3 separate regions of the Homo sapiens genome follow, and regions 2 and 3 are each linked to region 1. The links come from fine-mapping of genetic effects on gene expression. A gene starts in region 1. Each other region holds a variant in brackets. All regions are shown on one strand. Distances are from middle to middle.

Region 1 (4,248 bases):
CAAATGCTATTTCCATGAATATGTACATTTTACATATCATCAATCCATTTATGAAACAACAAAGAGGGTCATAGAGACATGTAAACAAACAAGAAGCTCAGAACCCTGCTGAGGTATAATATAAAAACACCTGATTAAATAATCTGGAAGGAGGGTAAATGGTATGAAGAAATCAAAACAGGATGAATAGTTGAGCCACTCAAAGTTACAGGGAGCAAACTAAGTGGGAAAATAAATCGTTAACAGTTACAAAAACTGGAAATGTGCTTGTATATATGAGACAAATTGTCCATAAAATCAACTTGTTTATCTGACATTGGCTGGCAAGGATCTCCCTGTACTAGTAACACAGACATTCAACTAGATTAGGAGTCATCCAGCAACTTTTCCTGAAAATGGCAAAACAGTAAACATGTTTGGAGCTGTGGTCCACATCATCTATTCCATATTCTACTCGACCTCTGCAGCATGAGAGCAGCCATAGACAACACATAAACAAGTAAACAGGGTTACGTTTAAACAAAACTTTAAGTATAAAAGCAGTACTGATAGGGTTTTTGCATATGTTACTTTAATTATGACTTTAATTGCTTAAAGTATTTCCTGGAAACACGAAGTTGTTAACAAGTGTTAGTTATTTTTGTTTGAGAGAATTTCAAGAGATTGAAATTATCAACAGAGGAATGTGAAAGTCGTTGGGCATTAAGCTAAGCCATAAAAACTTTACCCTGAAAATCGTGGGGGTGTCCTTGAATGCCCACGAGTTTAATTTCCATTTTCTGCCTGAGGTTTTAAGGAGTATGCAGGATTAGGAGGGTAAACACTCATAGCTCATTAGTCTAACAGTGAAGAAACCATGAGGGCCTAGAGTAATGGAAAGGCAATGAAGTGAAAAGACAGTTAAAATGTGTAATTTTCCAAATACAGAACTGAGATATTTAAAAGGATTGTATGTGGTGGTTGGGTGCCATTACAAAGGAGGTGGATGAATTTTAGGCGTCTAGATTTGTGGTGCTGATGGTTGGGCAGGGGACAAGCACACAGGGAAACAAGGAAAAAAGATGTATTTAGGTTTAGGTAAAAATATCACATGCTCAGTATCCAATTCCTGTTAAACACCTGGAGATGGGAGTCTGTGGTGCAAAGGGAGTTCGAGTTTAACTATACACGATTGGGTGATGCTGGCATGCAAGGAGAGATGAAGCCATGGATTTCATTAAGGACCCCAATCTGAATGTGGACCGCACACAAGAATCAGAACCAAAACCTGGACACAGCCAAGACTGCAGGTTTCTCTTCCCTTGCTCCAAATCCACTTTCAGAAGAATTAGAGAAGAATTGACTAAAGAATGTAAGTAAACTCCAGGAAACAGGGTTCCACAGAAGCTGGGGAAAGGTCAGTACGTGGAAGAGAGAGATCAGTAGTACCTGCTCGCTACAAGGAGGCGCCTCCAAATGTCAATGCCTATTTTCAACAAGTGGGACCCAAAGTGATTCATGCCAGTGCTCTAAAATACACCTGACCCTTGAACAATGTGGGGGATATGGATGCTAACCCCCCACAGTCAAAAATCCAAGTTTAACTCTCAACTCCCCCAAAGCATAACTCCTAACGGCCTGCGGTTGACCGGAAGTCTTTGTCACTAATAATACAAAAAATTAAGACCTATTTTGCCTGTTATTCACATTACACACTGAATATGCTGCTCCCAGCGGAGGCCGAGACTCCTGCCCGGGCACCCCCTCACAGCCCCCACTCCAGCCTCCCCAGACTCACCCTCGGCGGGGCCACCTTCTTCTCATTTCAGTCTGGGGCCACATTCTCCGGGCCTGCGGGGCATGGCAGGAGGCAAAGCCAAAGGCGAAGTGGCCACAAATTCCGGTGGGGGCGCTGGCTCCTGCCCCACCCCAGCATCTATACCCTGAGTCTGATAGGACGAGAAGGAACATTTCAGCCAGCCCTGATTGGGTCATATTATCCAATCAGAGTTGTTTTGCACAGTGGCTCTCATCCAATCCGAACATGCCTTACAGGATATCTAGTTAAATAAGTCATTATAAATAGTTGCTCCGTGGGCTTTCCGCATTTCACCCTGCTCCAGGCAGCGTGGTCTGTATGGCTCCGCCCTGGGCAGGAGGAGAAAGAAGAGGGCCAGGCACCACGTGCCTGCACTCTCCCTGGATGCTGGAGGCTGCTCCGCCGTGGGCAGGAGGAGAAGGAAGAGAACTGGGTGCCGCCTGCCTGCACTCTCTCCGGATGCTGGAGGCTGGAGGCAGTGAGGCAGCAACAGCGCGAGGGCGAGGCGACTTTGGAGCTGCCTCATGCAGCGACCTCGCCTTCCGCTGCGCCTCCTCCCAGAACCCAAGAAGCCTGGAACCTGTGGCGTCCAGCCCTGAAAGGAGGAGACGGCAACCCAGCCGCGCGTGAGTCCGGGAGTCTGGGATACCGGCGGCAGAGGAAGGACAGGCAGGAGTCTCGGCCTCTCGGGGAGCGACGTGCCGGGAAAGGCAGGAGGGCCCCAGCGGTGGGGGCGGGGGTTGCGCGCCGGGGAGGGCGGCCTCAGGCTGGGAGCCTGGCAGATCGTCTGACTCTCCCCGAGCCCCATCCCAGGCCGAGCCAGGACCCCTCTGATGCACAGGCGTCTCAGGAGCCCGTTTCTTTCTTGAATCCGGGGCCCAGTGCGGCTTGAACCTAGCCCCCGACCTCCTCCTCGCCCTCTCAGAGTCCGCTGGGGTGGGCGCTGAAGGAGCCCGGGTCGGAGAGGAGCCCTCCCCTTCTCTCCTGCGTGGAAGCCCTGCAGCCTCCGTTTCTTTTGGGACTGGGGTCCGGGGCCTTCTGCCTGACCCGGGGTGAGAAAGGGAGCCCTGATCAGGACCCGGTGAGAGGGCGCTGGAGCCCGGGAGCGGCAGGAGCCTTGAGCGGCAGCCCGGGAAGAGGATGGGGTCACCTTCTGCCCCAGGTCCCCCACTGCCAGGATCTCTGTCACCTTCTGGGGGTCCTGTCCCCTGGGGTCCCACCCCCCGGGCTGCCTGTGGGTATCTCTCATCTGGAACTGGAAATAACCCTCTTCATAGTACGGCTTAGCAAATATTTATTCGCCCATGCACCCCCCTTTTTTTTCCTTCATAGTGTTCTTTTTGTCTTGGATCATTTGTGTTTTTCCTACATTGATGTGAAGCATTTTTAAAGACACTTTAGAGATTAGTCCTTTATTGGTTCATTTCTATTGTAGGTTGTTGTTTCCTACTCTGGTCTTTGTTGTTTAATTTCAGTTTTAATTTCTTGCTTGGTTTAGTTCATGTAACAATATTTTTCTTAGAATATTTGTATCTGTGTTTGTGAAACAGAACATCTATTATTTCTGGGTTTTTTATTGTCTGATCAGATTGTGTATTAATGTAATGCTGGCTTCTCGAAACAAATTGAAAAACCATCCCTTTCGTCTTTCTCTTTGAGAGAGAGTGAGCAGTGTCAATATTTTTTTCTTCCTTAAATATTTGGAACATTTTCAAAGTCTGATCCTGGTGTTTTCCTTGTGGAGCATTATTGTTGATTTGTTGGATTTTTAAAATTAGTTAGTTAATTTTGTTTAATATATATAGGAGTGTTCTTATTTTATGCTATTTTTGTGCCAGTTTTAGTAAGTTGGGTTCAGCATCTGTTGCGATCTCTGTTGTCAGACTTTTGATCATATGTATTTCACAAAATTCTCTGATTATCTTGTTATAATACTGTTATGTAGAGTTGTTGTTTTGATTCTGATACTGGTCACTTGTGTTCTTTCATCTTTTTTCCTTAATCAGTTTTGCCTGCACTCTCCCTGGATGCTGGAGGCTGGAGGCAGTGACGCAGCAACAGCGCGAGGCGACTTTGGAGCGGCCTCATATAGCGACCTCGCCTTCCGCTGCGCGTCCTCCCAGAGCCCAAGAAGCCCGGAACCTGTGGCATCCATCTCTGAAAGGAGAAGACGGCAACCCAGCCGAGGGTGAGTCCGGGAGTCTGGGGTGCCGGCAGCGGAGGAAGGACAAGCAGGAGTCTCGGCCTCCCGGGGAGAATTTCACAAAATTCTCTGATTATCTTGTTATAATACTGTTACGTAGGCTGTTGTTTTGATTCTGATACTGGTCTCTTGTGTTCTTTAATCTTTTTTCCTTAATCAGTTTTGCTAGTGGTTTATTAACTATGTTGTTTATAAAAACAACTTTTAGCCTTGGTTTATTTGTGTTATGTTTTTTTTTCCATTTCAT
Region 2 (4,248 bases), 100 kb before region 1:
CTTTTTTATTTCTATTGTTTGTAGGGCCATAAGCAGGAAAAAACAGAGCTAAGAGTCTCATGACAGCAGAGAAGTTTTGATTCATAATCTTAGAGAAAATGCTGTGTTAAGAATGTCATCTGCTTCTGAGGACAAATTTATCTGGTTAGCTTTACCTAAAGGTCTCTGATGTATATAAAATTCTGGCAGGGCTTAGTGGCTCATGCCTGTAATCCCAGCACTTTGGGAAGCCAAGGTGGGCGGATCATGAGGTCAGGAGATCAAGACCATCCTGGCCAACATTGTGAAACCCCTCTCTACTAAAAATACAAAAATTAGCTGGGCGTGGTGGTGCGTGCCTGTAATCCCAGCTACTCAGGAGGCTGAGGCAGGAGAATCACTTGAACCAGGGAGATCACGCCATTGCACTCCAGCCTGGCGACAAAGCGAGACTCTGTCTCAAAAATAAATTAATTAATTGATTAAGTTAAATAAAATTCCAAGAATCTGGAGAGGACCTTCTGAAATGTAAGATTATAAACCCAGGGGTTCAAGGTCCCAAAGTTCTGCCACAGTGTGGATAAAAAGGAGATATTCAGTATCTTGGTTATAGATTATAATGGGATTATTGTCCTTCAGTTGGTGGACCATTAAAAGCTTTCTTTACCTGGAAAAAAATATGCCTTGGCATAATGCATTAAAGCCTTGCTGCATTAAACCACATCACAATTTAGTAACAGAAAATACATGCAGTTCTATTATTAAGTGAATGGACCTTCCAATGAGTATTTCTTAAGGGTCAACTGATGTTGTCCACACTAAGTGGATCAGATTGTCATCAATCTGCAATACATTTGACCAAGGTAATCCAGTCAATTCAGTTATCCTTGCTTAATGCTGTAGCATCTGTAATAATTCATTTTACAGTTTTACAACTTTTCCAGTGAAATAAGTACTTCTATCATTGAAGGTTTTATCAGAAATGTCCAATGAAAAAACATATTTTCTAATAACATTTTAGTTACTGTTGTAACATCAGCCTTCTTGCATGGGAAAGTTTTTATACAACCAGAAAACATGCATTGAAAATGACAATTGAATAAAACCTGTGTACAAATGTTTAAATGACCCATCAGGTTTCAAAAATATACATGAAGTTTTAATTGTCTTCCTAGAATTATAGATTTGATAAACCAAACAATGGTTATAAACTATGTTAGCAATTTAAAACAATCACCATACATACATGACACACACACACACATTTAATTTATTTAATTTGGATTATTTTTTCTCTTCCATGAGTCATGAAATGCAGAGCTTTTAATAATAAAAGCCTTGAAGACTCAGGAAAAACCAGGTAGCTGTCTAGCTTCTCCACAAGTTCATGTTTAACAGTGGATTCATGTCCTTTTAAATACCAGGTTTGTTTCTCCAATTTAGATGCATAGCACTAATAACTGATGGCTTATCATAGGGAATTTGACTTGAACCACAGAGTTCATTCAAATTGCATATCTAAACAATCTCAGCACTGGCTAGTTTAGTATGAAAATCTGGCAAAACATTTTCTTGGTATTCAATTAATTTTTGTCTCGCTTTGATTAGGAGTTTTATAAGTCATTCCCTTCATTAGAGTTCTGAGGGTTGTTACCCAGTCCAAATGATACAATCCTAAAGTTATCTAAAACCTGTATGCAACATGTCTGGGTTCTTACCACTCTTTTCATGACCTCCTTAAAGACATAACACTCTAATATTTTGTGTGCTTGTGAAGTTTTTAGAAACTGCATCAGAATTAAGTCAGTAACTATAGATATGACTTAAAATGGTCATACTTAAATACACAGTTGGTGGCTGGGCGCAGTGGCTTATGCCTGTAATCCCAGCACTTTGGGAGGCTGAGGTGGGTGGATCATTTGAGGTCAGGAGTTCAAAACCAGCCTGGCCAACATGGTGAAACCACGTCTCTACTAAAAGTACAAAAATTAGCTGGGCATGGTGATAGGCGCCTGTGGTCCCAGCTACTTGGGAGGGTGAGGCAGGAGAATCACTTGAGCTCGGGAGGCAGAAGCTGCAGTGAGCCGAGATCGCACCACTGTATTCCAGCCTGGGAGACACAGAGAGACTCAAAACAAACAAATAAACAAAAAAGATACAGCTGTCAGGGAAATTTGGTTATATCTGTGGCCTACAGTAATTTATCAAAATAACCATAATTATAACTGATAGTGTACATTCAGATATATTAGAACTTTAGAAATTCCACATAATTTTGGAACAAACATTAATAACATATTTATTAAAAGATAACTTGAGGCCTAGCATGATGGCTCACTCCTGCAATCCCAGCACTTTGGGAGGCTGAGGCGGTGTATCACGATATCAGGGGTTTGACACAAGCATGGCCAACATGGTGAAACCCCATCTTTATTAAAAATACAAAAATTAGCCAGGTGTGGTGGCACCCACCTGCAGTCCCAGCTACTCAGGAGGCTGAGGCAGAAGAATCGTTTGAACTGAGGAGGTGGAGGTTGCAGTGAGCTGAGATCGGGCCACTGCACTCCAGCCTGGGCAATAGAGCAAGACTCCATCTCAAAACAAAAACAAACAAACAAATATATATAAGTATGTATACACATATACACATATATGTGTATATACGTATATACACATATATGTGTATATGTGTATAC[A/ATACT]TATATATATTTGTTTGTATATGTGTATATACGTATATATGTATATGTGTATATACGTATATATTGTATATGTATGTGTATATATATATAACTTGAAGAAAGTTAAACATCATTATTCATTTGACAATAATTTCCATGTAGTTTAACATATTCTGTAATCCCATTTACCTCTTTTTTGGATGCTGCGGGGTCCCTCTGTAACATCCCAAAGTTGAGTAAAAGAAAAGACAATTTTGGAGCTCAAATTTGATGTTGGGAAGCCTGTCAAATATGTCAAAGGTTTAAAACATTTGACTAACATATGATCAAAGGTCATCACAAAATAACAGTCATTCATGTAGCCGAAGGAATAATTAAAATAATTTAGGGCTGAGCATGGTAACTTATGACTGTAATCCCAGCATTTTGGGAGGCTGAATAAGGAAATCTGGCTGTCCTGGTTTGAGCCCAGGAGTTCAAGACCAGCCTGACAAAACCCCATCAGTAAAATATATATATTTTTTACTATATATAAAAATATATAATATTATATAATATATATGAACATAATATATATAAATATATAAATATTACTATGCATATAAATATATATATATGGGTGTGTATATATATGTGTATGTGTGTGTATTTTATATATATATATAAATTAGCTGGGCACGGCGGTATGTGTCTGTGGTCCCAGTTACAGAGGAGGCTGAGACGAGATAATTGTTTGAGCCTGGGAGGTCAAGGCTGCAGTGAGACATGATTGTGTCACTGCACTCCAGCCTGGGTGACAGAGCAAGATCCTGTCTCAAAAAATGTTTTCAAAAAACAAAACACTTTACTCTTTGATAGAGGAGACTCAGTTTTCCAATAAACAGACTTGAGAAAAACAGCGTGAAATAAAGTCTGTCTTTTCTCTACTCTCCTTTTCGTTTACTCAAAAGGTGAACAAAAATATTTGCTTTCTTTTATTAATAATACATATCAATACAATTTTGTTCAAAAATCAAAGTTTACTTTTATATTAGTTTATCAATACTAAAGCTATTTTTAAATAAGAACTTATAAATAAATCTATCAAATCTGTCATCTTTTGACCACACTAGATTTCCATACATTTTTATAATTTCTTGTAATTAAATTTCTTAAACTTTTTATATTTTAGTTTTATCTGCATCCTTTTTGTGCTTTTAATTTGAAACAATCTTTTGGTAACTTTAAACTGTTACCAGATGATCCAGACCCCAAAAGAGGGTTCTTGGATCTCATGCAAGAAAGAATTAGAGGCAAATCCATAGAGTAAATTGAAAGCAAGTTTATTAGGAAAGTAAAGGAATAAAGAATGGCTATTCCATAGGCAGAGCAGTGGCATTGGGCTCTGGTTGCCCATTTTATGATAATTTATTAATTATATGCTAAACAAAGGGTGAATTATTCATGAGTTTCCTGGGAAAGTAGTGGGCAATTCCTGGAGCTGAAGGTTCCTCCTGTTTTTAGACCATATAGGGTAACCTCCTGATGTTGCCATGGCATTTGTAAACTGTCATGGTGCTGATGTGAGTGTCTCTTAGCATGCTAATGCATTATA
Region 3 (4,248 bases), 670 kb before region 1:
CCAGTGATGGTGAGCATTTTTTCATGTGTTTTTTGGCTGCATAAATGTCTTCTTTTGAGAAGTGTCTGTTCATATCCTTCACTCAATTTTCAATAGTTTTTTTTTTCTTGTAAATTTTGTTTGAGTTCATTGTAGATTCTGGATATTAGCCCTTTGTCAGATGAATAGGTTGTGAAAATTTTCTCCCATTTTGTAGGTAGCCTGTTCACTCTGATGGTAGTTTCTTTTGCTGTGCAGAAGCTTTTTAGTTTAACTAGATCCCATTTGTCAATTTTGGATATTATTGCCATTGCTTTTGGTGTTTTAGACATGAAGTCCTTGCCCATGCCTATGTCCTGAATGGTATTGCCTAGGTTTTCTTCTAGGGTTTTTATGGTTTTACATCTAACATGTAGTTCTTCAATCCATCTTCAATTAATTTTTATATAAGGTGTAAGGAAGGGATCCAGTTTCAGCTTTCTACATATGGCTGGCCAGTTTTCCCAGCACCATTTATTAAATAGGGAATCCTTTCCCCATTGCTTGTTTTTCTCAGGTTTGTCAAAGATCATATGTTTTTTGATATGTGGTGTTATTTCTGAGGGCTCTGTTCTGTTCCATTGATCTATATCTCTGTTGTGGTACCAGTACCATGTTGTTTTGGTTACTGTAGCCTTGTAGTATAGTTTGAAGTCAGGTAGCATGATGCCTCCAGCTTTGTTCTTTTGGCTTAGGATTGACTTGGTGATGCAGGCTCTTTTTTGGTTCCATATGAACTTTAAAGCAGTTTTTTCCAATTCCGTGAAGAAAGTCATTGGTAGCTTGATGGGGATGGCATTGAATCTATAAACAACCTTGGGCATTTTGGCCATTTTCATGATATTGATTCTTCCTACTCATGAGCATGGAATGTTCTTTTATTAGTTTGTATCCTCTTTTATTTCGTTGAGCAGTGGTTTGTAGTTCTCCTTGAAGAAGTCCTTCACATTCCTTGTAAGTTGGATTCGTGGGTATTTTATTCTCTTTGAAGGAATTGTGAATGGGATGCAGCCAAAAAACACATGAAAAGATGCTCACCATCACTGGTCATCAGATAAATGGAAATCAAAACCACAATGAGATACCATCTCACACCAGTTAGAATGGCAATCATTAAAAAGTCAGGAAACAACATGTGCTGGAGAGGATGTGGAGAAATAGGTACACTTTTACACTGTTGGTGGGACTGTAAACTAGTTCTATCATTGTGGAAGTCACTGTGGTGACTCCTCAGGGATCTAGAACTAGAAATACCATTTGACCCAGCCATCCCATTACTGGGTATATACCCAAAGGACTATAAATCATGCTGCTATAAAGACACACGGACACGTATGTTTATTGCGGCTCTATTCACAATTGCAAAGACTTGGAACCAACCCAAATGTCCAACAATGATAGACTGGATTAAGAAAATGTGGCACATATACACCATGGAATACTATGCAGCCTTAAAAAATGGTGAGTTCATGTCCTTTGTAGGGACATGGATGAAATCGGAAATCATCATTCTCAGTAAACTATCACAAGGACAAAAAACCAAGCACCGCATGTTCTTGCTCATAGGTGGGAATTGAACAATGAGAACACATGTACACAAGAAGGGGAACATCACACACTGGAGACAGTTGTGGGGTGAGGGGAGGGTGGAGGGATAGCATTAGGAGATATACCTAATGCTAAATGATGAGTTAATGGGTGCAGCACACCAGCATGGCACATGTATACGTATGTAACTAACCTGCGTGTTGTGCACATGTACTCTAAAATTTAAAAAAGTATAATAACAAAATAATATATATATAGAACAATATTTTAAGGAATAAAAAAAGAAAGAAAAACAAACGTTTACATTTGTGAGATAAATTCACACATCACAAAGTATTTTCTGAGAATGCTTCTGTCTAGTTTTCATGTGAAGATATTTCCTTTTTTACCATAGGCCTTAAACTGTTCAGAAATATCCCTCTGCATATACTACCAAAAGACTGTTTCCAAACCGCTCCATCGAAAGAAAGGTTCAACTCTGTGAGATGAATGCACACATCCAACGAAGTTTCTCAGTAAGATTCTGTCTAGATTTATATGAAGATATTTCATTATTCAACGTAGGTCTCAAAGCTCTGAAAAATGTCCCTTTACAGATTCTAGAAGAACAAAATTTCCAAACTGCTCAATGAAAATAAACATTTACCTCTGTGAAATGAAGGTGAACATCACAGAGCAGTTTCTCAGAAAGCTTCTGTCTTGTTTTTATGTGAATATATTTCCTTTTTCA[C/T]CATAGGTCTCAAAGCACTCACAAGTATCCCTTTGCCGATACTGGAAGATTCGAGTTTCCAAAGTGCTCTATGAAAAGGAACGTTTACCTCTTTGAGATGAATGCAAACATCACAAAGCAGTTTCTCAGAAAGATTCTTTCTGATTTATATGTGAAGATATTTCCTTTTTCGCCATAGGCCATGACATGCTCCCAAATATCCCTTTTCAGATTCTGCAAAAAACACTCTTTCCAAACTTCTCAGTCAAAAGAATTGTTCAACTCTGTGAGATGAATGCATACATCCAAAGAAATTTCTCAGAAAGCTTCTCTCTAGATTTATGTGAAGATATTTCATTTTTCAACATAGGTCTCAAAGCACTGACTAATATTTCTTTGCAGATTCTATAAGAGCAGAGTTTCCAAACTGCTCAATGAAAAGAAACATTTACCTCTGTGAGATGAATGGGCAAATCACAAAGCTGTTTCTCAGAAAGTTCCTTTGCAGTTTTTATGTGAAGATATTTCCTTTTTCACCATAGGGCTCAAAGTGCTCACAAATATCCCTTTGCAGATTCTAGAAGAACAGAGTTTCCAAACTACTCAATCATCAGAAAATTTAATCTCTGTGAGATGAATGCACACTTCACAAAGCAGCTTCTCTAAAACTTCTTTATAGTTTTTATGGGAAGATATATTTCCTTTTTCACCATATGCCTCAATACGCTCCCAAATATCCCTTTGCAGATTCTGAAAAAAAGACTGTTTCTAAACTGCTCAATCAAAACAAAGGTTCAACTCTGTGAGATGAATGCACACATCACAAAGAAATTTCTCAGAAAAATTCTGTCTAGTTTTTATGTGAAGGTATTTCCTTTTTCACCAGTGCCCCTAACCACTCACAAATATCCCTTTGCAGATACTACAAAAAGACTGTTTTGAAATTGCTCAACAAAAAGAATGGTTCATCTCTGTGAGATGAATGCACACGTCACAAAGAAGTTTCTCAGAAAGCTTCTGTCTATTTTTTATGTGACGAAATTAACATTTTCATCATAGGCCTCAAAGCGCACAAAAATATCCCTTTGTAGATTTTAGAAGAACAGAGTTTCCAAACTCCTCAATAAAAAGAAATATTTAACTCTGAGAGATGAATGCACACATCACAAAGCAGTTTCTCAGAAATCTTCTTTCTAGTTTTTATGTGAAGATATTTCCTTTTTCACCATAGACCTCACCGTGTTTGTAAATATCCATTTGCAGATTCTACAAAAAGACTGTTTCCAAACTACTCTATCAAAACAATGATTCAACTCTGTGAGATGAATGCACTCATCATACAGAACTTTCTTAGAATGGTTCATTCCAGTTTTTATGTGAAGATATTTCGTTTTTTACAGTAGGCCGCAATGCGCTCCCAAACAATCCTTTACAGATTCTAAAAAAGACAGTTTCCAAATTGCTCAATGAAAAGAAAGGTTCAACTCCATGAGACGAATGCACCCATCATGAAGAGGTTTCTCAGAAAGCTTCTTTCTAATTTTTATGTGAAGATATCTCCTTTTTCACCACAGGCCTCAATGAACTCCCAAATATCCTTTTGGAGATTCTACAAAAAAAGACTGTTTTCAAACTCCCCAATCAAAAGAATGGTTCAAATCTGTGAGATGAATGCACACATCATGAAGATGTTTCTCAGAAAGCTTCTCTCTAGTTATTTTGTGATGATATTTCCTTTTTCACCATAGGCCTCAAAGCACTCACAAATATCCCTTTACAGATTCTACAAAAGGTCTGTTTCCAAACTGTTTCCAAACTCCTCAATAAAAAATATGGTTCATCTCTGTGAGATGAATGCACACACATCACAAAGAAGTTTCTCAGAAAGCTTCTATCTAGTTTTTATGTGACGATATTTCCTTTATCACCATAGTCCTCAAAGCGCTCACAAATACCACATTGCAGATTCCACA

Alleles and levels. Positions count from the first base shown, and alleles are read on the strand shown. Sizes are in standard deviations (SD) of each study's normalised expression. Not every link is listed here.
As copies of A replace ATACT in region 2, the expression in prefrontal cortex of the gene that starts at base 2,035 in region 1 goes up (moderate effect, 0.41 SD a copy in BrainSeq).

What was found. PIP is the estimated chance that this variant, and not a neighbour inherited with it, causes the effect.
Region 2: its variant is the best candidate, but not a certain one, in a credible set for the expression of LINC00839 in prefrontal cortex (BrainSeq, PIP 0.63).
Region 3: its variant is the best candidate, but not a certain one, in a credible set for the expression of LINC00839 in hypothalamus (GTEx, PIP 0.78).

Annotation. Positions count from the first base shown.
Region 1 is chr10:42,473,457-42,477,704 of GRCh38, forward strand. LINC00839 (long intergenic non-protein coding RNA 839) reads left to right here and starts at 2,035. Exons shown (of 5, transcript NR_026827.1): 1 at 2,035-2,424; 2 at 3,805-3,986.
Region 2 is chr10:42,372,497-42,376,744 of GRCh38, forward strand. No RefSeq gene overlaps it. Among named protein-coding and RNA genes, the nearest start is that of LINC00839, 100 kb to the right of the region's middle. The variant A/ATACT (reference allele first, on the strand shown) is at 2,676.
Region 3 is chr10:41,804,330-41,808,577 of GRCh38, forward strand. No RefSeq gene overlaps it. Among named protein-coding and RNA genes, the nearest start is that of LINC00839, 670 kb to the right of the region's middle. The variant C/T (reference allele first, on the strand shown) is at 2,297.